Linked DNA regions of Homo sapiens: all the other regions are linked to region 1. Evidence: fine-mapped expression QTL. A gene starts in region 1. Each other region holds a variant in brackets. All regions are shown on one strand. Distances are from middle to middle.

Region 1 (8,176 bases):
ATCTGAGGCCCGGAGTCAGGGAGCCCCACTTCTGAGTCCCCCAGTGTCCTGAGACTTGGCTCCCTCTGCGGTGTTCACGTAGACCTCACCCTGTGTGGTGCCCGTGCAGCAAAGATGAGATAACCCGAGGCAGAAGCGGGAGGTTAAGTGCTGATATTTCCTTACGTGGCCCTCATTCCCCTTATCCAGACAAAAGAAGTGAGTACAGGGGCTAAGCGACTTGCCCAACGTCACACTGTCAGTAGGGTGGGAGCTGGTCCTCAACACAGTTCCACTGACCTAGCCTGGTCCCTCATACCTCTCAGCCCACCACAATGGTGGCCACTGCTCTGATCATTAGTTTCATCGTTAGCTAAAGAAGGACCCCAAATGTGGGCGTGGGAGTTTGCTCTGTGACAAGGCTAAATGAATAAATATTCTCATAGCTTCTTCACCATCATCACCCCTCATAAATCGGCTACCTTTGCTCAGAGACCACACCTCTGATCCCCACACCAACCTAGCCAAAGAGATGCCACTGCCCCCTTTTATACAGGAAATGGAGGCTCAGAGAGGTTAATCTTCTTACCCAAGATCACACAATGACAAGGGATAAACTACAGGCAAGTCCAACTTCAGAAGCCCTGCAGGTTGATCCCGTCGCCACTATGGGGAGAGGAGTGACCCAGCAGAACTGGGACACACTGCAGTCATCCTCAGACTCCCCAAGGGAAGCCCCCATTTAGTTAGAAAGCCCAGCAGGGAGGCACTTGCCCAGTCACAGCTAAGTGAGGCAGGGCCTGAATGGGAACCCTGGCAGTCTGGCTCAGAGCCTGAAGAGACACAAGGTCCCACCCTCGAGGAGTTAAACAGATAGCCATAGCCTGCAGTGGCAATTGCTGCTGGCTTAAGCATTAGAAATTGTTCCCTCTGCCACTTGTCCCACAGCCCAATCCACCCTTACACACCAAGAGAGTGGGGCCACGGTCCTGCCACTTCCTCGTGCAGCCTTCCTGGCCGGGCCGCCTGTCCCCATCTCTCCCTGCACATGACTCTCTGACAGCACGGGCAGTGTCTGTGTGGTCACCTCCCCAGGAAAACAGAGCCCCCACCAAAGTGGGACCATCTCTCAGGCCACCTCACTGTGTCCCGTGTCCCCAGTCTCTAGTGGGCAAGATCTGCTTAAGGAAAAACTACACAAACAAATATCACACTGTATGTGTATAAAAAGTTCTGAGAACACAAATGAGAGAAGCACACAATCTTTCCGGCAGAGTCTGGGAAAATCACACTGATGGAACCTGAGAGCTGGGCTTAATCATGAATCGTTCTCCACATACTCAAGGGAGGGGAGCATTGTTTTAGACGGGGGGAAAAAGAAGCATGTGGGGGAAAAACCCAAGTGTGAAGACATGTCTACGCAACACAGAGGCAGCAGGCGTGGCTGAGACATTGTGGCAGGGAGAGGGGAGAGATGGGCTGGGGAAGCCAGGATGTGAGGAACTGGTGAGGTCGTGGGGGCGGTGGGAGTCATGGGTGGTTTGTGAAGGAGGAAAATGCCAGTCATCTCATGCATTGGGTCCACACTGTGAGCCTTTGGGAGCTGCTTACTGCAAAAAGACTACAGATAAGAATTACCCCAGACTCCAGAGCAGAGATGTTCAGCATTACAGACCGGTACACACCTCAACAGCAACAAAAATCTTGCAACAAGCCACAAGCCTCCACTGTGCGCTACAACATCAGTCTCTGCAGAGCTGCAGGTCTCCAGGAGGGTGGAAATGCCCTGCTAGGAAAGGATTCTAATTCCCCCACTCTATCCCCGAATGTGTCCCTCCTCCTTGCCCATCCCAGCTAGTGGAGCCACCACCCACCAGCCCAGGGTGCTACAGGAAGGGCCAGCTCCTCCCATGGCCTCGCCCTCCACACCAGCGGGTTACTCTGACTTAGGGGGGATGGCCCTGCTATGCCCAACATTCACTGTGGGTGGAGCCCTGGGAGAGGGGCTGAGGCTGCCCCTGCCCTCCTCCCCACCTCCTCCTCTGCTCTGGAAGGCAGAGGCCATCAGATGGTAACAGCATCCTGGGACAGCGCCACGTTCCAGGAAAGCTCAGGAGGGGCAAGGGGATCTCCCTGACTACAAGGAGCTGGCCAGCTGAAGTTAGGGCGTTCGCGGAGAGAGCACAGCACTGGCAAAGGCCAAGGACAGTGTGCCTGCGAGTGTGCGCAGATGGGGCGGGCGGCGGAGGAGGGCTGGCGGTTAGATACAGTATCGCTGGAGCTCAGAGAGCCGGGCAGAGGCTGGCGGAGAGCCGAGGCTGGCCCAGCCTTCAGGAGACCGGCGAGCTGGGGTGTGTGGGAGCGGGATGCTTCTAAGGCGAAAAGAAGCGCCAGCCTCGTAAGCGGCCTCTATCTGGGCTGCCCAGGCCGGATGCTCAGGAGCCCACAGCAGGGGGGATGGAGCGAAGGACCGAGGGGCTGGGAGGCGAGGCCGCAGCGCACTGACGCAGGCCAGCGAGGCCGCTGGCCCCGACGCAGGGCGCCCGGCAAGGTGTCTGGCACCACGAGAGTCAATCCTTGCGCGCCATCTCCGGAGGCCAGTGCGCCCAGGGCGCGCCGGCCCGGCAGGAGGGTGGGTGCCAGCCTTTCTTCCCATCTCTCGAGCCTCCTCCCCGGCGCCCACGTGGGCGGAGCAGCGCGAGGGTGTGCGTGGCAGGGGCCGCGGCGGCGTGTGCCGTGCGTGGGGTGGGGTGCGGGCTGGGCGGCCTCGCCTTCGGGCCCCGCGCCGCCGGGGCGCGGCCCCCAGCTCCATCTTCTTTGCCACCTGGGCGGAGATCTGGGGGACTGTGACCTACCCTGCGGAAGACACGGAGGGGACGGGCCGGCCACACCCCCCGCGCCACTCCGGCAGGCACCGGGTGGGTCCCCCTCCCGCTCCTTGGCTTGAGGGCGGAATCCGGAGAAGAGTGGAAATAGGGGTGGCGTGAAGGAGAGCTGGGGGCTGGGGGCGGGACCGGGAGGGGGTGTTGGGGGAAGCGACGCAGCGGCTGGGAGATTTTGCAAGGGGGTCTGAAGAGGAGTGGGGGATGGGTATGGAAGGGTGGGGGACCACTGAGGTGGGATGCGAGAGTGGAAGGGGGACCCAGAGGGGGCGCGATGGCCGGAGGAGGGGGAGATGGACGATGGGGCGGGGCGGCACCGGTCGCCGCGTCCCTTGCCGCCAGGTCCGCCCCTCGGTCGCCGGGTCCACGGGTTCCCTCTGGCCAGCGCTCGCCTCCCGCCCCCCGGCGCACCTGTACCCACCTGCTCGGCGCTCAGGCCCGAGCCGGGCAGCAGCAGCGGACGTAGCGAGCGCAGCCCCGCGCCGCATCCTCCGGCCGCCCCCTCCCCGCTGCGAGCTTACGCCGCTGTCGCCGCCGCCACCGCCTTAAAAAGGACAAAACGGAACAGAAAATGAATGCATGCACAAAAAAAATCGTAAAAAGCAATTGAGGAGGATGGCAGTCGCGCGCGCGGCTCGGCGGGGCGGGAGTCGAGAGGCCGCGGCACTGGTGGCCGCGATCCGGGCAGGCGGCCGGCGCGTGCCGCACGCGGGTGGCTGCAGCTCCCTCGGTCGCCCGCGCCCGGCTCAGGCACGGCACCGCCCCTCCCCCCGGGGAGCCCCTCCGATTGGTCTGTCTTCCTGCCAGTCAGGCAGGAGGGCGCGGCGCCCGCCCCGCCCCGCCCCCGCCCCCGCCCCGGGCAGATGCCGGGAGCTCTCCTGCCGCCGTGGGAGGGGGAGCTGAGCTGCCGGAGCGTGCGCACTGGGCCAGCGGGCGGCCGGGGCAGGGCTGGGGTCCCGGCGCTGAGCGCCCCCAGCCGCGCCGGGCAGCCTGGCGCCTCGCTGAGTCGGAGCAACCCCCGGCAGGAGCTTTCAGGCTCTGGTCAAGCCTCGGGACCCGGGAAGCTATCCCTGCCCTCGGGGGCTCGAGCCTGGAGTGGGGCTTGCAGGTAAAGCGGGGCTGGGGCCGTCCTGGCCGTCAGTGGTCAGGAAGACGCAGCGACCCCGGAGATCCATGTCCCCCTCTGTACGCATGAGAGGTCTGAAGGTCAGAGGTTAAAGCGCACGCTAACGGCGGCAGAGCCAGCAAGCGGCAGAGCTGGGCGGATGCCAGCCTAGGGAGCCTCCCCCCACCAGCCCAGGCTGCCCCCAGCAAAGCCACATCAGCAGGTCATAGCCAAATGAAAGATGTGCTGTCGAGCTGAGACTTGGGAGGGGCAGGACTCAGCTGGGCAAACATTCATTCAGTGTCATTAGACAAATATTTATTGAGCACTTGCTGTGTGCCAGGTAGTCACTAAGATGTGGGGACACCACAGTGAACAGCAGAGAGGAAGCGGCTGCCCACCAGAGCTTACTTTCTAGCAAGGAGAAGGCAGGGAAGAGCACCCACCAAAGGGAGCAGCATGGGGGAACACCCTGACTGCTGTGAACGGGACATATTTGAGAATCTGATAAAAGTATCTGGGCCACAGAATGGTGAGAGGGAGTGTGTGGAAGATGGGGGGCGGGGGCACAGAGGGGCAGCACTTGCAAGGTCTTGCAGGCTGGCGAGAGTTTGGAGACTGTCTCACCTGGAAGGTGGTCCCATGGACCATTGTCAGATTGATATTTTTTAAAGTGCATCAGTCAGGATAAGCTATGTTAGCCACAGTAACAACCAAACCCAAATCTCCCTGGTGTGTCTTGCCCACATCATACATCCTGCCTCGGTCAATGGGGCTCTGTTCATCAGAGTGGTTGGGAGCCCAAGCTGCTGGGGCTGTCTGCCAGCCGAGCACCCACATGGTGCAGCAATGTGAATGAAAGGTGACAATTATGCTGGCTTTGAAGGCTTCCTCCCCGAAGGGACTCTCGTCACTTCTGCTCACGTTTCATTGGCCAGAGCAGGTCACATGGCCATGCCTAACTTCAGAAGAGGAGGAAGTGCAGACCTCTAAGGTTCAGGGGGTCAGGAGGAACTAGGATATCTGTGAGCAGATGTGAGACTATCTTTAGCAGATGCCCTGGCTGCCCTTGGGGCATGGGCTGAAGTAGTCAAGAGTGGGGACAAGGAGGCAGTGTGGGGGCCTCCTCCACGCTGATACAGTGAAGTATCAGCGCATCAGAGCAATCTGGGTGCAGAATTGGCAGGACATGCTCACGGCTTGGACGTGGACAGGAGGGAGGGAGGGACAATCAGGGACAATGCCCAGGTATCCTGGGATGAATTGTGTTCCCCCCACCCACCCCCTCAAAAAAAAAAACTCGTATGTTGAAGTGCTCACTCCCAGGACCTCAGAATATGACCTTACTTGGAAATAGGGTCGTTGTAGATGTAATTAGCTAAGATGAGGTCACAATGGAGTAGGTTGGATTCCTAATCCAGTCTGCCTTCTATCCTTATAAAAGGGGGAAATTGGATACAGAGACACAAGCAACGGGAGCATGCCGTGTGAACATGAAGGTAGAGATCAGGTCGAGGCATCAGCTAGCCAAGGAAATGCCAAAGATGGGAGCAAACCCCCGGAAGCCATGAGAGCGGCCTGGGACAGATCCTTCCCCAGGGCTTCATAGGGAGCGTGGACCAGCTGACACCTGATTTCAGACTTCTAGCTTACAGAAGTGAGACAGTGCATTTCTGTTGTTTAAAAAGCCCAGCTGGTGGTACTTCGATACATGTGTGTAGATTAAGGGTTATGTCTGGCTGTGAGTAATCGGGATCACAACTAGACAGCGGCTTAAACAGATTTTTATTCTCTCTTAACAAGAAATGCAAAGGCAAGCTGTTCCTCACTTTATCCTCTCTCACTCCTTCACCCTCAGGATGTAATTTTCTTTTTCAAAATGTCTTCTACGTGGCAAGTTGGCTGCCTCTTCCCAGACATCTCATCACTATTCCAGTCAAGAAGGGGAAGAACAAAAGGCATACCCACACTAGGTCAGCTCCACTTCACCGCTTTCCTGAAAACTCTCCCCAGAGAGCTCTGTTTTATCTCATTGGCTGGGACGGTGTCTCATGGCCAGCCCTGGCTTCAGAGGAGGCTGGGAGTATTGTTATTATTTTTTAAGATGGTGTCTTGCTCTGTTGTCCAGTTTGGAGTGCAATGGCGTGATCTTGGCTCATTGCAACCTCCGCCTCCCGGGTTCAAGTGATTCTCCTGCCTCAGCCTCTCAAGTAGCTGGGATTACAGGCCCACACCACCACACCCAGCTAATTTTTGTATTTTTAGTAGAGATGGAGTTTTGCCATGTTGGCCAAGCTGGTCTCAAACTGCAGACCTCAGGTGATCCACCCACCTTGGCCTCCCAAAATGCTGGAATTACAGGTGTGAGCCACCACGCCCGGCCAAGGATGTTTTTTTTTAATTGAAGGTACATTGCTGCCTGAAACAAAGTCAGGGTTCCATTAGTGAGGAAAAGAAGAAGAATGACTTTTGAACAGGCAACTATTGGTTAGTAGATCCAGGTTTTGTAAAACCTGGAGCCGCTACAGTCCCCCTTAGGAAGAAGAATTTAAAAACCCCAGTACAAGACTTGGTACAAAAATGAAAACTTATTTAGAATAATAACAAATCACAACAAATTTTAAAATATTTTAAGTTGACAAATATCAAAAACGTTGCGAAAACATTATAAAACTAATATAAAATTGTATTAATTGGATACCTGATATCCACCTTTATAATATCTTCTTTTTTTTACATTTTTTGCTTCTTCGTCATTTTTGATTACCTCTTTGGAAGCCAATGATTTTATAATATTTTTCCTGTGGAGAAAATAGATAATTCAGAGTACTCCTATAATGATGGGAACAAATTTTAATGTTGGTTGGAAAACTTTGTCAGCCTCATAACTCATTATTGGTAATCTCAGGTAGTTTTTTGAGATTGTTTTCAAATTTGGAGAAAGGTCTATCATTCTTTCATAAATGAATGCTAACACTTGGAAGAATTCTATTTCTTCCAGGCTTCTTACTGGGATTTTATTAATTTTCATGATGAAAAGCAACTGAACAATTGCAAACCAGAACATGACTCGACTAACACCTCCTAAACCTCAGTGCTGGCGCCCATCACCTGGAGAGGCATAGGAGAAATGCAGATGCCCAGGCTCCTCCACATCCCACTGAATTGAAGCCTCAGAGTAGCAGGGTCTAGGAATCAGCATTTTACTAAATGCCCCAGGTGACTCCTGCTGAGCAGTCCTGGGCTATGCGACACCCCCAGTTGCCTTGTGACTCTGAGGGTCTGCAAATCCAGACCTCTCCTATTGGAAGAATGACATTTTCAACCCTTATGTCTCTTCCTCTGCCCATAGACTCCTGGTGCCAGGCACCATAGCACACATTGCCAGTGCCATGGCAAGGAGGGCACTCCTGGGAGCCATTAGCCTGTTCAGGGAGCAACAACTCGACCCACACAGACTGGCTCAGACCTACATAAACACACCCCACTAAACCCAAACCAAGGCATCCCCAACTCAATCCCCCTTCAGCTACATCCCCAAAATGCCCTTGGCCTCCGCAGCAGCTCCGAAGTGGGAGGAAGCATGATGAGGGCGGCATAGGGAAAGAGACAGAGGGTATTATGGGTTGGATTGTGTCCTCCAGAACTTGAGTGCTGAAGCCCTAACCCCCAGGAGCTCAGAATGTGACTGTATTTGGTGATAGGACCTTTAAAGAGGTCACTGAGCTTAAATGAGGTCTTTAGGGTGGGACCTAATGCAATATGCCTGGTGTCCTTATAAGAAGAGATTAAGACACAGAAGGAAGCCCCTGTGGAGACACAGTGAGAAGATGGCCATCTGCAAGCCAAGGAGAGGGGACTTGGAGGAAACCAACACCTTGGTCTCAGACTTGAAGCCTCCTGAACTGTGAAAAATAAGTTTCTGTTGTTAAAGCTCTTCAGTCTGTGGAACCCTGTCTTGGAAACCCTGGCAGCCAGCTTAGCCAGTTACAGCTAAAATATCTTGCTTTTGGAAAGTATTTCCAAACACAAGGCCACATGAACCCAGAGCTCTGGCTCTCCCAGGCCTTGGAAGGGTCTGTACTTAGCTTCACAAGGAATTCACCCCCGCTGCCACCACGTGGTCACTACATAACCCTCAGGACGACCTATGGGGCAGGGGGTCAGGTACCACCAAGATCTCCCTATTAGGGACGAGAGGTTGGGGCCC
Region 2 (8,162 bases), 47 kb before region 1:
ACTGCATCAGGCTGATGGTCAAGATCCTAGAAGGCTGCCCCAGTGACCTCTCCCTTCCAACTCCCAGCTCTCCCCACCCATGGCCCACCCTCCAGCTGGGCTTCTCCTCCTGCCTCTGCTCTGCACCTTCCACTGCCCCTGCTTACCAGGAACGTCACCCGCCAATTCCAAATCTCCCCTTGCCTAAATCTCACATCCTCCAAGGTCAATTACACACTCATTCTTCCAAGAAACACGCCTACAAGTTTGTGGAGCGCCTGCCATATGCCAAGCTCTGGGGAAGAAAGTGAATGATACAGGTAGTGCCCCCTTCGGCTACTTCCCCACAGCACAGAACATTCTCCTCCATCAGAGAGAGAGAGAGAGAGAAGAAAGTGCTGGCACAGGCCCCATGCTTTGGGCTTATGTATATTAGCTCAGTAATCTTCATAATTCTTTGAAGGAGGTGCCAGCTTCCCTCCCACCCAACCTCCCAGTACAGAGAAGGAGAAACACCTCAGAGAAAGCAAGCAGACTGCGGAGACCAGGGGCTGAGGTTGGCCCCCGGTGTCAGCTTCTAACTAAAAGCCTTACTGTGCAGCGGGCTTCTCAAGGACAGTGTCCACGGTTCATCCACCTCTACGTCCCCAGGGCCCTGTCCGGGGCCTGACACAGCAGGTACACAGCCCTGTTTGCTGAACTGAGTGGTTTCCGCATCCAGGAATAGACACCCGCTTCTTAATCCCTGCCTCGGAGGCAGCTCCCACGGCGCTCAACGGACTCCTGACCTTCATGAACAGACCACGGGGCCGGCAGCACCTGCATCAGCGTCTGTCTGGCTTCCTCTTCAAAACCCAACAGACTCCATCTGGGCCCCAGAAAACTGCCCTGATGCTACAGGTAGGAAGAAAAATCTTTTAAAAGCACGTTAAAAGGCAGGCCTCTAAAATCAGCTTCCTAGACCATGGCGGGAAGAAGAAAACAGGCAAGAAATTTCCGCATCCCAGCTTCAAGCTCCTCCACTTGAGCAAGACAGTAATAATGTCTGCCACCGGAAGACACCCAGTGCAACACCTGAAGCAGTCAGCGTTGAGTGTGCCCAGGTGACACACATTTACAACCCCACCAGTGGGTCCCTGTCATCCACCAAAAGCAAAACACCTGGTGAAGGCTGCTGGGGATGGCAGCTCTTTCTCCCCAAGCTTTGGCTTCTATGTGACCTTGTGCAGCGCCCCCGCCATACCTTCCCCAGTCTCCCACTGTCTCCAGGCTGTGGCCCAAGTACTCTGGTCTGGCATTCAAGCTCCTGAGCTTGTCTCCTGCTGCCCTCCCAACTGTGACACGGCCATAGCACCCTACATGCCAAAAATGAAAACAATGGCCACCATGTCTATGTTCCATACAGGACCTCATTTAATCCTCTCCACAACCCTATGAAGTTACTTCTGTAATTATTCCCACTTTCCCTACGGAAAAACTAAGGCTTAAGAAGTGTCTGCAACTTTCTCAAGATCTCAAGCCCAGCAATAGCAGGGCCAAGATGAAAGATGAGATCAGACTCCCATGTTCTTCCTCACTGCACCACAAAATACTGCCTCCAAATCCCCAAATGCTCAGCGCCCTCTCTGAGGTGCCTCCATGCCTCTGCCCAAGCTGTTCTCTCTGCCCAGAAGGCCCTCTGCTTGCTTACCCACCATTCTCACCACCCCAGACCTGGCCAACTCTAGCCTCAATGTCACCTCCCCTAAGTCTTCCTAGAGCTTCCCATGCCCCACCTAGTTGCACTCACAGCACTGTGACCTTCACAGCCGCATTTAAGCTCAGAGTCCTCCAGTCCTCCTGGCTGGAACCACCTGTTCTCCTGTCTGCTGTTCAAGTTCTTTGAAACTTAGAGTTGAAGGTGGATCTCAATAGCCATTGAAGCTGGACGGCAAAGTGGCTAAGGGTATGGAGTGAGACCTTAGGCCAGTGAGTCCTTCCACTTGTCTAGATCTGTTTCTTTACCTGTAAAATGAGATTATCCAATAACCATACCAAACTCATAGTGTTGTTATGAGAATTAAACAAGACAATATAAGTAAAAGCAGTGAGCACAGTGCCAGGTACATGACATTGACCTTCCCTGAACATTAGCTGCTGTTGTTATGATGACTTTTACTTGGTAACCACTACGGGGCTCGCCACTATGCCTGATACACTGTTACCACTTAATAAAGGTCTCAGGGTTGGAAAGGAGAAAGGAAGCAGGCGAAGGAGGAAGGAAGGGAGGGAAGAAGAAAGAGACAGGGGAAGGAAGAAGGGAGAGAGGAAGGAAGAGAGGGAGGGTGGGAAAAGAGGAGACAGAGAGAGAGTGAGAGAGAGCAGGGAGGGAGGAAGTCAAATCAACTCGGAATAAAACTATCTAACCAGCAAACGCTGCTCTAAATGGGAGTAAAAAGGTGAAATTTCTTCCACTTGAGGCCATGACCTCCCACTGGGACTCTGATCAAGAGTCCTCACTCACTCATCCAAGCCTTCCTTTCTTCCTCTTTGGTGGAGGCTGCATTACCTAAGCCTGTAGCCCCAGCTCCTAGAACCGCCCTCACCCAGCCCCACCACCAACTGGCTGGGGAGCTGCCTGCTGCTCTGCATCCTATGATCAGAGATAAGGCCTGGCATTGGAAGAGTTTGTGTCCGCACGAATAAAAGGCAGGCAGTCTCTAAGAGAAAACCCGACCTCTGATCCTGATGCCGGGGAATATTTATGTGACCCTTTAACCCCTATATTTAAACACTAGTTCTTTGATCCCAATACTCAACACTTCACTCTTGCAGCAGATCTTTGCAATATTCTCACAGAAGTGGGCATCCTGGCCGAGTGTGGTGCCTCATGCCTGTAATCCCAGCACTTTGGGAGGCTGAGGTGGTTGGATCACCTGAGGTCAGGAGTTCGAGACCAGCCTGGCCAACATGGCGAAACTCTGTCTCTACTAAAAATACAAATATATATATATATATATATACATATATATATATAGCTGGGCATGGTGGTGGGCTCCTATAGTGCCAGGTACTCAGGAGGCTGAGGCAGGAGAATCACTTGAACCCAGGAGGCGGAGGTTGCAGTGAGCCAAGATCACGCCATTGCACTTCACCCTGGGCAACAAGAGTGAGACTCCGTCTCAAAAAAACAAAAAGAAGTGGGCATCCCTTAGCCCCAATTCTAGGAAACCCACATCACCTTCCTGTTAACCTGAGCTCAGTCTGTTTTTCTGTGACCAGCCCCACCCATGCACATCCCCCTCCCCTACCTGCCTGAAGACTACACAGGCAGATTCACACTTGCCAGCCAAGGCTTCAAAATCAAGCTC[T/C]ACCAGACTCTCCTGGCATCCAGCTCACCAGAGGCCAACACCTGCTCACCATTCGACAGCACCCTGATTCCTACTCAGAGGCCCCAACGTCCCTGCCTCTCAGCCTCAGCTCCAGGGGTCTTCCCCGAGCCTGGCCTCCTTCACACAGGCCTTGGTCACAGGCAGATCTGGGTGAGAAGAGGAGCCACGCTGAGCATCAGGAGCCCTGGGATTTGAAGCCCCTTCTTCTCTCCACAGCCTTGTGACCCTGGCCCTCTCTAGGCTTCAATTTCATGTTTTGAAAAATGAGCACTGGAGCCAACGGTGTTTCCCAAACCTCAGTCATCAGTTGCCGCCGCTGTGACTTCTGCATAAAATGCATGGTTCTTCTTTTCTTAAAATTAGCTTTCCGGAGGTGTAATTTGCGCTGTAAGAGGGTGCACCTCAGACAGCCCTGACAATCTGGAGAGAGAACGTTTTGTGGAAGGCCATCATGTTCCCGTGTGCCCCTCGGCACCTTACCTTTATGTGCTTAGTACTTTTCTTTAACACTACTGACTTTTGAAAAACCTGTACACTACTTCAGCCTTATTCTAAGCAAAAATATCCCCCAAATCATAGGCTTCAGGTGCTATATTTTATAACTATAAGATACAGTTATATTTTCCCTAATGCACACTAAAGTATTATTAAAATAAATTATGTTTGGCTACTGTCACCTAAAATCTCACATCGCAACACTGGTGAGCACTCTCACTGAGAAATGCGGAACCAGCTACCCGCTCCCTGAGGCCCCTTTTGGCTGGGAAAGTCTGGATCCTGCCTCTTACTTGTCACAGAGTCTGCCCAGGTCTTGTATGCGGCAGATGTTTACTAAATACTGGCTGCTGAACCAGAGTGAGAGTTCAAGGCCATCTCTGCAGCCCCCAGACCATGCCTGGCTGACTGCATCCTGCTGCCTATGGTGAGAAGGCACAGGCTTGTGTCCTGCAGAGCTGATAAACCCTGCACTCAGGGAGACACTGACCCTCGCAGGAGGGAAGACAGAGCGGAGCTGGACACAGGCGGAGGCTGAAGAAACAAGCAAATCACTGGACGTGCAGAGAGGCTGCACTGGGGAGAGTTGCTCCTATTTTAGGCCATTGAACTACTTTAATAATTCGGTCATTTTCACATCAAAACCATTGCAAGGAAAACCCCCTAGGATGTTAAATCTGCATGCCCAGAAAGGATTTACCACAAAGAGCGTGAAGAGAGTGGTCCCCTTCCAAGTCCCCATTTCACAACAAGCTAAAAACCGAACAGAAGCCTTTAGTTCCCTGAGTGATTGGACAAGGAATTTGTCAGATGTCTATAGTCCTTTAAAAAAAAAAAAAAGCAGGGGGGATATAAAAGGAAGAGGATGCATTTCAGCCTTGAAAAAGGCAATACCGAAAAGGCAGACACCAAGAAACTTAGCAAGGCTTCCAAGAGCCCAACACGCACAGCCCACTGCACGCAGGGACTGTGCCCAACTCTGCAGCCCTGGCAAATGGAATTCTTTTCAATCCGGCCCGCTGAACCCCTCTTTCAGTTTACTTACTACCCAGCCCACTCCTAACTCCCCACCCCCAGCCATCATGAACTACAGACAGCACCCTAAACATCCTGTTCTGCCTTTGTATCCAGTGGACAGTCCTTCCTTCCTCCTCCACTTGGGAAGCTCCTATTCATTCCTCGAAGGCCTATTCATCCATCGCCTCCCACAGGAAGCCCCCTGAGACCCTCTCACTCCACAAACCAACACAGAGCACGCAGGGAAAGGTGCGGGGTAGGGTGGGGGGTCTTAGCTGGGGTGGAGCCTGAGCCTCAGAGGCTTCCTTCCTTGTCCTGTGGATAAAGGAATTTAAAGCTCATTCCCGAGCAGTGGGAAGACAGTCGGGAGATGCCAGCCCAGCCTGCTGGGAAGATACTTCTGGTGACAGTGTTGGGGTGTGCTGAAATTGGATCTGTGACAATGCAGTTGACTCTCCGCTATCAAAAGGCCTACACATGAATGCCTGGCTGGAGCTTCCCTCCGCAGTGACCCTGGTGTGCCCACGAGGAGGACGAATGCTCCTCCTAAGGAGGAAACAACATTCCCTCCTCTGCGCTCAACGCCTTTTAATACCAGCAACCACCACTCAACCACCACCACCGCGAATGTTTACCCAGCCCTTATCCTGCGTCAGCTCTGCTCCAAGCACTTTATATTTAACCCTCAAGAGAACCCTAAAACATAGGTATTCTAGAGATTTAAAAAGTATGGAAAGGCTAAAACACTTGTCCAAAAGTGCACAGCTACTAAGCGGGACTCAAATCCAGACAGTTTGGTTCCAGGGTGGGTTATGGTGGTTGGAAAAATGACAGCAAACTCCTAACTGGCTCTGAAAACTTCTAAACGCCCAGCGCTGCTACCTGATTTCCCCTAAAGAACTCACGGAGGATTTACGCGCATATTCAGCTGCAGGGACATGCACGGATGTGCTGTTTACAACAAGGAAAATAAGCAGCCAACTAAATATTTGCTAAATATTCACCAACAACTGTATGTCCCATGGCACATTTATAGAACGGGATATTATAGTGTCCTTTAAGCTGAAGCTCTATCATCTCAAATTTTGCTCTGAAGGCCTGTGTATCCTGATTCCCAAGTGTGCTTGCTAACATGCAGCCTTCCTGGGTCCTGCCCTAGACCTCATGAATGGCACTCTCTAGAGGTGGGGCCTGGCAATCTTAAGTTTGCACATACATTTTTCTGTGCGGTAATGTGTGAGAACCGCTGCTGGGGATGAATATCTACTGCCACGGAAAGGGTCAGCTCTGTGACTTCTGTCCGTGGTGGGTTCCTCAGTGCGTAGAACAGTGCCCAGCACAATAATGGATCTTCAAGAAATATTTGGTGATCCAGAAAACCCATCCATCAACAAACTATTCTGAAATAATCTGTTGGCATTTCTAAATACCTGACCCATCTGTGTGTTTCTTGGGAGCAGAGACCGGGAACATCTTCTCACCGTACCACGCCCGGCACAGAGCCAGCCAGCCACGCGCAAAGCCAGCCCTCGGAAGTGGCCCGCCAACACAGGAACAAGCGAATGCCACTGTATCACACTGATCCTAAGTTAACGTTTCTGAAATCAAGATTCATCTCACATTCAATGCCCCATCATCATTTAATGAATAGCACTTTTTCCCATTTCTTTAGTGGTACAAAAATAATGATGCATGTCCCAATTGACAGCAGCTTAGATTTAATAAAATACGGTACCTAACAGAGTCCAGAATTCTGATTTAAAAGTTTAAATTAGCTGCCAACACAGCTAACAGATTGTTGTGCATTTCCTTTCTTATAATTTGCAGAAATAAATCCAGAGCCATCTGTTCTGAGCGTTCGGCTTCAGCCCCCAGTCATCCTGGTGACCCAGGGCTTAGCTACTGAGATGCAACTCAAAGATCTGATGCATGTGGAAGGCTTTCATCTGTCTTCACCCAGGAAATGTCTGACAGCATCCGCTGAGATGTGGGAGCTAAAATATCTCCTTCATTGAAGGCTGTAGGATGTACAAGAAAGGTCAGTTCTGGGCTAGACCTTGGTTACATCCCAGCTCCACTGTCCCCAGATGTCTGGTCTTGGGAATCTCATGGCCACACCTGGCACATGGACATGGTCTGCCCATGATAGGTGTTGGTCACGTTACAATTGTTCAGTAGACCCACACCCCATTGGCCAACAGCCACAGCCCTGAATTTTCTATAACAAGTTCCATGGCTAGTGGTTTGAATGCGTCCCTCAAAGTTCACTGTTAATCCCCAATGCACCAGTGTAAAGAGGGGGGACCTTTAAGGGGTGATTGGGTCATGAGGGCTCTAACCTCATGAATGGATTAATGCCATTATTGCCGGAGTGGATTCCTGATAAAAAGCTGAGTTCAGCCCCCTTCTCAGCTCTCTCTCTGGAACTCTCTTGCCCTGCTGCCTTCTGCCATGAGATGTGGCAAGAAGGCCCTTGCCAGATGCAGGTCCCTCCACCATGGACTTCCCAGCCTCCAGAACTGTAAGAAACGCATTTATTTTCTTTATAAACTACCCAGGTGGTGATATTGTGTTATAGCAACACAAAATGGACTAAGACGAGTGCACCTGGGCAGGTTACTCCCTCTGCAAAAAGGCGCACGGGATGGGAAGCTGGCGCACAACACAGGGTTGTCCCAAGAACCAAATGAGATTAAATTGAAAGCTCTCTGAAAAGCAGCAATTTCTATGGTAATTCAGGTAATTTGTGATATTTAGGAAGCTACAAATTATAGATATAAGAATCTTCAAATTTTCAAATCAAACTTCAGCGTACACTTTCCGTAACACCTTTTTTGACTAAGAATCCATCATTTTCCTAACTTTTTCATAAGCCACTGGCACAGACCATCACAACTCAGAACCGGGATCTCCGAGCTACAATCCCACCAGAATCCCAGCTCAGCCATCTTCCCCAGCGTAGCCCTGGACATGCTACCTAACCCCTGCTTTCTCCTGTTTAAACTGGTGCCAGTTGTCTGTGGTTTCACATTCACTGAGCAGGTTAGATATGCCTCTCCGTAAACACCAGCCATGAAGCAGCACACCCAGTAGGGTGTGAGTGAGGGACCGTAGAGTCGAGAATTCTGATGAAAAAACTTAAATTAGATGCCAACACAGCTAACAGATTGTTGTCTATTTCCTTTCCTTGGGCTCTGTTAGAACCAAGGGTGTCTTGCTTTGCATCAGCAGCACTAACTCCTGATGCAACAGCTTTCTTTCTATGGATCACTTCATTCTCCCAAAGAACACAGCTTCTAC
Region 3 (8,176 bases), 94 kb before region 1:
AGTGATTTTAGAATATGAAGCCAATCTTTATATTTTCAGAATAAACCCAGCTGGGTTATGACTTATTAGCCTTCCTATGTATTGCTGGATTTGATATGTTAATATCTTGCTCGTACTCTTGTATCTATGTTCATAAAAGGTAATCCAAAAGTTTTCTTATCCTGTAATGTTATTGCTTTTGGAATCAGAGTTACACTGGCTTCATAAGTTAGTTAAAATGTGTTCCTAATTCTCTATTTTCTGGAAGACTTTGGCTAGAATTAGTTTTACTTCTTTCTTAAACACTTGAAAGAATTTACTTGTGAAGCCATCTAGGCCTGGGCCTTTCTTCATAGGAAAATTATTCATTACAGATTTAATTTATTTAGGAGCTTTAGGACTACTTAGATTTTCTATTTGTTTCATGTCAGTTTTGGTACATTGTGCTTATTCAAGGAATATGTTCATTTTATCGAGGTTTCAAGTTTATTGGTATATGCTGTTTGCTGTGGTTTTATTGACTGTAGGAGCTGTGGTATTTCCCCCTTTACATTTTTGATATTAGTAATTTATTGTCTCTGTTTTGCTTTATCAATATTGCTAAATGTTTGTCAATTTATCAGTTTTAATTAACTCTTGAATTTGTTGATTTTCTTTATTGATTTTATTTCACTGCTTCTTGCTCTTTAAAATTTCCTTCCTTCTACTCTCTGGAGTTTAATTTGCTGTTCTTTTTCTTTCTTCTTGAGATAGAAGTTTAGATGCTTGATTTTCAGCATTTCTTCTTTTTGTCTAAAATATGTTTTGCTCTAAGGACTAATTACAACCCACAAATTTTGAAATGCGGTCTACAATGATAAAAGTATGTCATGTCCACAGTATTCTGCAGTTGTGGAATAGAGTGCTCTGTCAGGTAAGTTCACGTTGGTTAATTGTGTTGGTGAAATCATGTCTTTATTCATTCTTTGTCTGTGTGTTCTACTGTTTGCTGAGAGAAGCGTGTTCGTCCCCAACCGTAACTGTGGATTTGTCTGCTTCTCCTTTTAGTGTTGATAATTTTTTTCTTTTATACATTTTGAGGTTTTGTTATTGAATGCATTCCCACTGAATTGACCCTTTATTATTAAGAACTGTCCTTTTGTGTCTTTAGTATTACTTCTTGCCTTAGAGCCTTTGACATTAATACAGCCAGACCAGCTTTGCTTTTAGGAAGTGCTTGCACAGTGTATCTTTCCCCATCCTCTTATGCTCCATGTCACCATGTCCTCATAATTAAGATGTCTCTCTTGTAAATATCACTGTTACTCTTTGATCCAGTCTGAAAATCTCAGCTTACTTTACTTCTTAGCCTCCTGCCCCACACAGCTTCAAAGTGTGACAAACGCCCTGAGGGGCAGACTGGTCATGTGTTTGTGGCGGGCCCCCTCCCTTTGTCTCCTACGTCCAGTGAGGGCATGGGAGCTGTCATTCTGCCTTTCCAGCTGGGCTCGCCAGCCTCCCCCTTCACTCCAGGACTCAGGAGGATCTCCTGTGCAGCAAGCTGGCCTAGGTGGGGCTCCTCTGGTTTCCATTGTTTCATGCCCACTCTGAGATGGCAGAAAAGTCCTACTCATCTCTCTGAGGACATCCAATCCTCAGCCCGCACCCAGAATCCACAAATGCCCCAAGGGAAGAAAGCAGCTGGCAATTAGGCCGCCCAGGCAGGGCTCTTTCCCCTTCCCTTTGGAATTTTAGTTCATCCACACTCCACAGCTTCCACAGATCTCCAGTATCTTTCAAAACAGGACTATTTGCAATTTATATGTTTCCCTTGCTGTTGCAGCCAGTTGGCCGGCCTGCCCTGACCTGTGGCATCTTACCTGGAGATGGAAGTCTGCTCATGGTTGTTGAAGTAAATGAATCAATAAATGCCCGACACTTAGATACGCTATCACGAGGCATTTGCAACAACCCTCGCTAGTCTCCATTAAGCTCCTTTGACAAATGGGGAACTGTTCTTTGAGCGGATTACCTGCAGCCCCAAAGCCTCCTTACCACACCTAAGACGGGAGGGAGGTTGCTGGGGCCCCAGTGCTTTGAACAATGCCTGGAGCACAGCAGGTCCTCGGAGCTCCGCATTTCCCCCATGCGTGCAGGGAGGGAAGGCCGCGTGCCCGCGGGCGGGGGAGGGGGCGGCACGTACCAGCCTGCGGATGTCGCGCTCGCACTCGCGCTTGATGCGGTGCACCTCGTCTTGGTGCGCCTGGTAGGCGGCACGCAGGTCGGCTGCCTTGGTCTTGTCAGCCTGCATGCAGTTACTGAGCGCCTCCTCTGCCTGCTTGCGCGCTGCCTTGAGCTCCAGGATCTCCTGCTGCAGCCGCAGGCGCTCTCCATCGAAGGCCCTGCGCGCCTCCTCGCGCGCCTCGGTCAGCAGCGCCGTCTTGACCTTGTCGGCCGCGCCGTCGCGCAGCACGTTCAGCGTGGCCTGCAGCCGCTGCAGCTCGCCCTCCTTGATCTTGGCGGTGCGCGCCGCCTCCTGCTCGTGCTGCCGGATGAGCCCCTCGCGCAGCGCCTGCAGCTCCTTGGTCTTCTCCTCATGCAGCTTGGCCTTGAGCTCCGAAATGTAGGCCGTGTGCCGTCGCTGCTCCTGCTCGCGCTCCAGCTTCGCCTCCTGCAGCCGCTCGCGCAGTTTGCCCACCTGCAGCCAGAGCGGCGAGAGAGCCGGTCAGGGTCAGGGTCAGGGTCAGGGTCAGGGTCAGGGTCACAGCTGGGGGAGCTGGCCACAGCCTCCCCACGCCCAAGACACCCACCTGGGCCCACGTTCCCATGGATTCCCCCTTCGGCAGTGCCCTGCAGGCCTGACCCTCCTGCCAGCCCCACTTAGAATCTCTCCTGCTAGTTCCCTGAGACTTTCCCTGGGGGTGGAAACCCCCTGAGGATGCTGGAGAGGCATTCAAGCCTTTGACATCTCTTCCAGGTTGTAAATTGAGACGACTGCTCAATCACAAAACACACCCTGCAGAAATCATCACCAAGACCCAAAAGATTGTAAACCAGAAATATATTTCCAGGGCCCCATGCGCGGACTGTGGAGTTGGAAAAGACAGACCAGGCTTCTAAGTCCTGGGGGGCAGTGAGCAGGGGGCACCATTCTTGTTGAGTGGGGTCCCTAGCTGGGCTGGGGGCTCCAATGCATCACCCACATTGCCACATGAACCCCTCACGGTCTTGGGAAGGAAGTAGCGTGCTCCCTCTCTTTCTCCCTCTCTCCTCTCTCTCTCTCTCTCTTCCTCTCTCTCTCCTCTGTTTTATCATGAGGCAGCCAAAGATCAGAGACAGTCTGGTGAGCTGCCCAGGGTGAGGGATGAGGACCCTGTGCTACCAGGCAACCCACCCCGCCTTGAGCCTATTCATTTTATCAGCAAACAATTCAAAACATTACTTATAAAACGTCCCAAGGGAGTGTGTTCTTAAAACACTTCAAAATGCTTTCTTTAACCTTTTTGTTTCAAATATCACTCAACACACATTCCACAGGAACGCCTGACAAGCCCTTATTTCCTGAATTCTGCCCGTCTCTGAAGACCTGAAATGAATTGCCTCTGGTGGACAAGCTGCTTCCAGGGAAAATGGCAATGTTTTTCCCCAGACCACACTGTTGATAGCATAGTCACATGTTAAAATTAATTTTAGGTGAGAAGTTTTACAATGGCACCTGAGTATTGATAAATCCTTACTTAAAACAGCAGGTAAAAAAGCAAATAAAACCAACCCAGGCAAACACACAAGATCAACATCTCCTTTCACCAGATACTCACAATCATAGGAATGAAGCCAGGCGACCAGTCCATGTTCTGTCCACCTTACCCTGGGGGCAGCAATCAGCATCTTTTCCTAGTGGATTTAGCAGCAGGAAGCCAGAACTTTAAGTATTTAACAGAATTGTCCCAGTTATGGACAAAATGGTTTTG[A/T]CTGTTCTCCCTCCTGCGAGGCAACAGTCAAGTCCCTGGTTAATGCCGACAGCCATCTGGGGCCAGCAGGGTCAGATCCAATGAGATCCTAATCTGCTTTGATGAGCTGCGTTTCCCCAGGCAAATTTCTCTGCCTCTATGGTGGCTGATGTTGTGGGTCGACTTGGCTGGGCCACAATGCCCAGTCGTTTGGTCAAACACCAGTCCAGATGTGGCTGTGAAGGTACATTTTATAAGAGATTAACATTTACATCAGTAGACTCTGGGTGAAGCACGGTGCCTTCCACAATGTAGGTGGGCCTCATCCAATCAGTCGAAGGCTTTAAGAGAAGACCGAGGTCCCCTGCGGAAGAAGGAACTCTGCCTCCCGGCTGCACTGGGACTCGAAGCTGCAAGATCAACCCTTGCCTGAATCTCCAGCCTGCTGGTCTGCCCTACACATTTCAGATTTGCCAGCCCCACAACCGCATAAGCCGATTCCTTAAAACTAACGAATAACCTCTCACTCTGTGGGGGGTGTGTGTGTGTGTGTCACAACCTATTGGTTCTGTTTCTTTGAAGAACCCTGACTACACAACCTTCCAGAGCTCCAGTTTCCTCTACTAGGAAACAGGGATGGCAACAGCTGCCCCTCAAAGGCCCGTTGAGAGGAGGAAGATGAGGTGACTGTGGGTGGGTGAATGGAAGTCTGTTGTTATCGTGGTTCTGACTTTCTGCATCAGGGGTGGGCAGCCTCGTGTGAGAGACACAGGTAGAAAGGGGGTGAGGAACATGGAAGGGTGGGCAGAGGCCTGTGCAGGGCAGCCCGGGGCGTCTAGGGGCTGCTTCCTGGGAGGGGCAGAGGTGCTGCTGAGGCTGGTGATCCAGGTGTGTAGGGCAGGGATGGTGACAGAGAGGCAGGGGCCTGGGGACAGGGCCCTGCTGGGTCCCTCCAGCTCTGCCCAAAGCTGCTGAGAGCCAAGCCCAGGTGACATGACCTATGCCACAGAAGCAGCAGAGTGAGGCTGGGGTGACCTCTGATGGGCACAGAGCACTCCCTCCCACCACCACTCCATCCAGCTGAGCAGGCCAAAAAAAGCCGCCCAGCACTTTACCTCCAGGTGCCTCCAAGCTACCCCAAGTGTAGAGGCACCTACACCAGCCGCTCCTCAGCACTTGGACTCTAAATGCAGCCACGGCACAAAGGCCAAGAGAGGGAGCATGCCCTGGGGGTGTGGGGGCTGGCGTGGAGAAATTATCTGAACCACCAGCACCACCCTCACTTGCCACTCCCACTCAGAGAGTGAGTCAGATTCACCCCTTTCCATCCTCATCCTCATCCAATCCAGCAGCACTGGCTCTCCATGTCCAGGCCTGGCCACTTCCCCACTTCCCCCTTGCCCAAGCCACCTGCAGCAGCCCTCCCCGCCACACCCTCCATGCTCAAAGCCCTCTAAATCTCATGGGTACCAGTTCACTACTCTGAAACCATCATACATGTATAGTGTTGAACAAAGAAAGTGGATGGCAGAGGGGGAAGCCAGGTTTCCCACTTGGAGTAAGAGGTTACAGACAAGCAAGAGGAGGCTGAAGGGAGCCATGCGGCAGTGGATGCGTCTTGGGACATCTGTAAGAACTCATGTTTGACTTTGTATGGATATAGATGTCATATATGGAAATATTTACAGGTATGCGTACATACGCAGGTCAGTATACACATATATATTCCTTGTTCTGGCAGCTGAGAGGGCCTAGAAACAATGACACCGCAGCAGTGATGGGCACGCCTGGTGCCTGGATCTTTGTTTCTAATGCCATTCTCCAATAAAAGGAACCAGGACCCCTTAGAGAAACTGCTGGGTCTAGCGCTGGGGTAGGAAATATACAAGATGTGCCTGGGGCACCTTTTTTTTTTTTTTTTTTTTTTTTTTGAGTCGGAGTCTCGCTCTGTCCCCCAGGCTGGAGTGCAGTGGCACGATCTTGGCTCACTGCAGGCTCTGCCTTCCAGGTTCACGCCATTCTCCTGCCTCAGCTTCCAGAGTAGCTGGGACTACAGGCACCCGCCACTGCGCCCGGCTAATTTTTTTATATTTTTAGTAGAGACAGAGTTTCACTGTGTTAGCCAGGATGGTCTCGATCTCCTGACCTCATTATCCGCCCGCCTTGGCCTCCCAAAGTGCTGAGATTACAGGCATGAGCCACTGCGGAGCCTGGGGCATCTTATAATGCCAGAAAGTAAGGAAATGCTCCACAAAACCCCCACAAAACTGCCCCTGTGAAGCCTTGGGTTCTGCTTGTCCCTGCACTATTTTCTAAAACCTCTGATGGAATGTGCCCAGGGCTGCTGTATTGCTGGTTTCCTGTGAGGCTCTGTACCCATGCGACTTGAGGACAGGGTCTGTCTCTGAGTTACTTCCAAACACTTCTCACTCAGCCCAGGCATGGAGCATGCATGCCAGGGGTTTGCAGATGAATAGACAGACACGTTTACCACCCTCCTTCATCCTACAGTGTTCAACAGGGATGCTTTGCTAAAATGCCAGCACTTTAAATGGGACATTGACAGTGATTGTGAGATCATATCAAAGTAACACTTCAATGCAATTGTAAAGTTTGCATTTATGTTTTTTGTACCAGTCAATAAGCACATTACTGAATTCTCAGAGAATTGAAATTCTCCCAGCAGCCAGATGGGTAAAGTCAACCTGAAGCGGCCACATGGATGGCTGGATTGAGAAAATAATCAGCCAGCGTGCATCCAAGTGGAAATTGCCACACGTCCCAGAGGCAGGGAGGCAGCCTGGTAACAGGGAGGCCCAGCCTGGGGTCCGCATGGGCCTGGCTTTCAATCCTGCAATACCACCTACTGTGCTGGCCTCGTGTGTGGGGCTAAACTGTGTCCCCCTGAAAATCATATGTTGAAGTCCTAACCCCCATGACCTCAGGATGTGATTCCATTTGGAGATAGATCCTAATGAGGTCATTAGGGTGGGCCCTAATCCGATTTGCCTGGTGTCTTTGTAAGAACAGAAAATACAGACATGGACAAACACAGAGGAGAAAGCCATGTGAAGACACAGGGAGAAGGCGGCCGTCTGCAAGCCAAGGAGAGAGGCTTCAGAAGGAGCCAATCCTGACACCTGGATCTGTGGCTGCCAGCCTCCAGGACTGTGAGACAGCAATCGTCTGTTGCGTAAGCCGCCCTATCTGTGGGACTTGGTTACTGCAGCCCTGGCAAGCTAACACACCTGGGCAAGTCCCCGCCCTCTCCAGCCCTTGGCTTGCTCACCTGTAACACGGGGGAAGCCACACCTGATCTCTCAGGTCACTGCCAGGGTCATGACACCCTCTAAAGCACCTGGTGCTATCTGCACAGTAGGCATGTAAAGGTCACCCTGATGGTCATGTGAGCGTATGACAGGCAGCACCCAGGCCCTGTGTGTGACTGTCTCATTCATTCCTCAAACAACCCAGGAGGCAGACACCTTAGAGGTCCCCATCTACAGATGGGAAAACTGAGGCAGGGGGTTACACAGCTTATAAGACCTCAGGCAGGGGTGGTGGTGGAGAGGGGATTTGAGCCCAGGCAGTGTGATATGAGTGAGCAGCTTTCCCTGTCACCACAGCTGCTGTAGCTATGTCCAGATACAAGCTGCCAGCCCTTACACCCCCAGCCAGTCAGCCCCAGCCCCAGCCCCGGAGGTGACCTGGCCTGTTGACCTGGCTAAAGGGTGAACAGGTCAGCATCACCAGCATCCATGTCTAAAAGAGGCTGGATGCACTCGGCCTGGAATCTTGAACACCTAGGGATGGAGACAGGTGCATCTGTCCCCAAGTTCCAGAAGCCCAGTCCCCTGGTCCAGAACTCAGCCTCTGCTCTGTGTGGCCATCCTGAGCTGGGGTTGCAGCCAGATCCCAGGCCCCAGCCCCGTCCCCACCTGGAAGCTGGATCTGGCCCAGCACTCCATTGGCGACCTGAGTCCCAGCTCAACAAGACAGGGACGCCTGCTGCAATTCCCCAAGCAGCCTCCACCCGTCACTCCAGGTACTACAGCAGGAGCCAGAGGGCACCTTCGGGGCTTCAGATAGACCTTCAACTGCTCGAGCCACCCAGGAGCAAGCCTGCATCTCCATGCTCTTTCTGTGCTCAGCCTGGCTGGCAGCTCCTCTCTGGGCTCACAGAACCCTGGGCTTGCTCTACCCTCAAGCCCACCCAAGTCAGAAGCAGGCCACCAAATAGGACTGCAGCTGTGCCTGGGCACCAGATG

Evidence for each region. PIP is the estimated chance that this variant, and not a neighbour inherited with it, causes the effect.
Region 2: its variant is fine-mapped to the expression of JAKMIP1 in whole blood (TOPMed, PIP above 0.99).
Region 3: its variant is fine-mapped to the expression of JAKMIP1 in whole blood (TOPMed, PIP above 0.99).

Annotation. Positions count from the first base shown.
Region 1 is chr4:6,196,971-6,205,146 of GRCh38, forward strand. JAKMIP1 (janus kinase and microtubule interacting protein 1) reads right to left here and starts at 3,579. Exons shown (of 21, transcript NM_001099433.2): 1 at 3,283-3,579. JAKMIP1-DT (JAKMIP1 divergent transcript) reads left to right here and starts at 3,763. Exons shown (of 4, transcript NR_037863.1): 1 at 3,763-3,969. RefSeq lists enhancers at 1,385-1,544, 1,665-1,714, 1,735-1,844, 2,055-2,144, 5,097-5,146 and silencers at 2,615-2,964, 3,235-3,994.
Region 2 is chr4:6,149,830-6,157,991 of GRCh38, forward strand. All of the region lies in intron 1 of JAKMIP1 (janus kinase and microtubule interacting protein 1), which reads right to left. Among named protein-coding and RNA genes, the nearest start is that of JAKMIP1, 47 kb to the right of the region's middle. RefSeq lists an enhancer at 3,410-3,579. The variant T/C (reference allele first, on the strand shown) is at 3,330.
Region 3 is chr4:6,103,312-6,111,487 of GRCh38, forward strand. It overlaps JAKMIP1 (janus kinase and microtubule interacting protein 1), which reads right to left. Exons shown (of 21, transcript NM_001099433.2): 3 at 2,162-2,656. Among named protein-coding and RNA genes, the nearest start is that of C4orf50, 89 kb to the left of the region's middle. RefSeq lists an enhancer at 2,377-2,909. The variant A/T (reference allele first, on the strand shown) is at 3,930.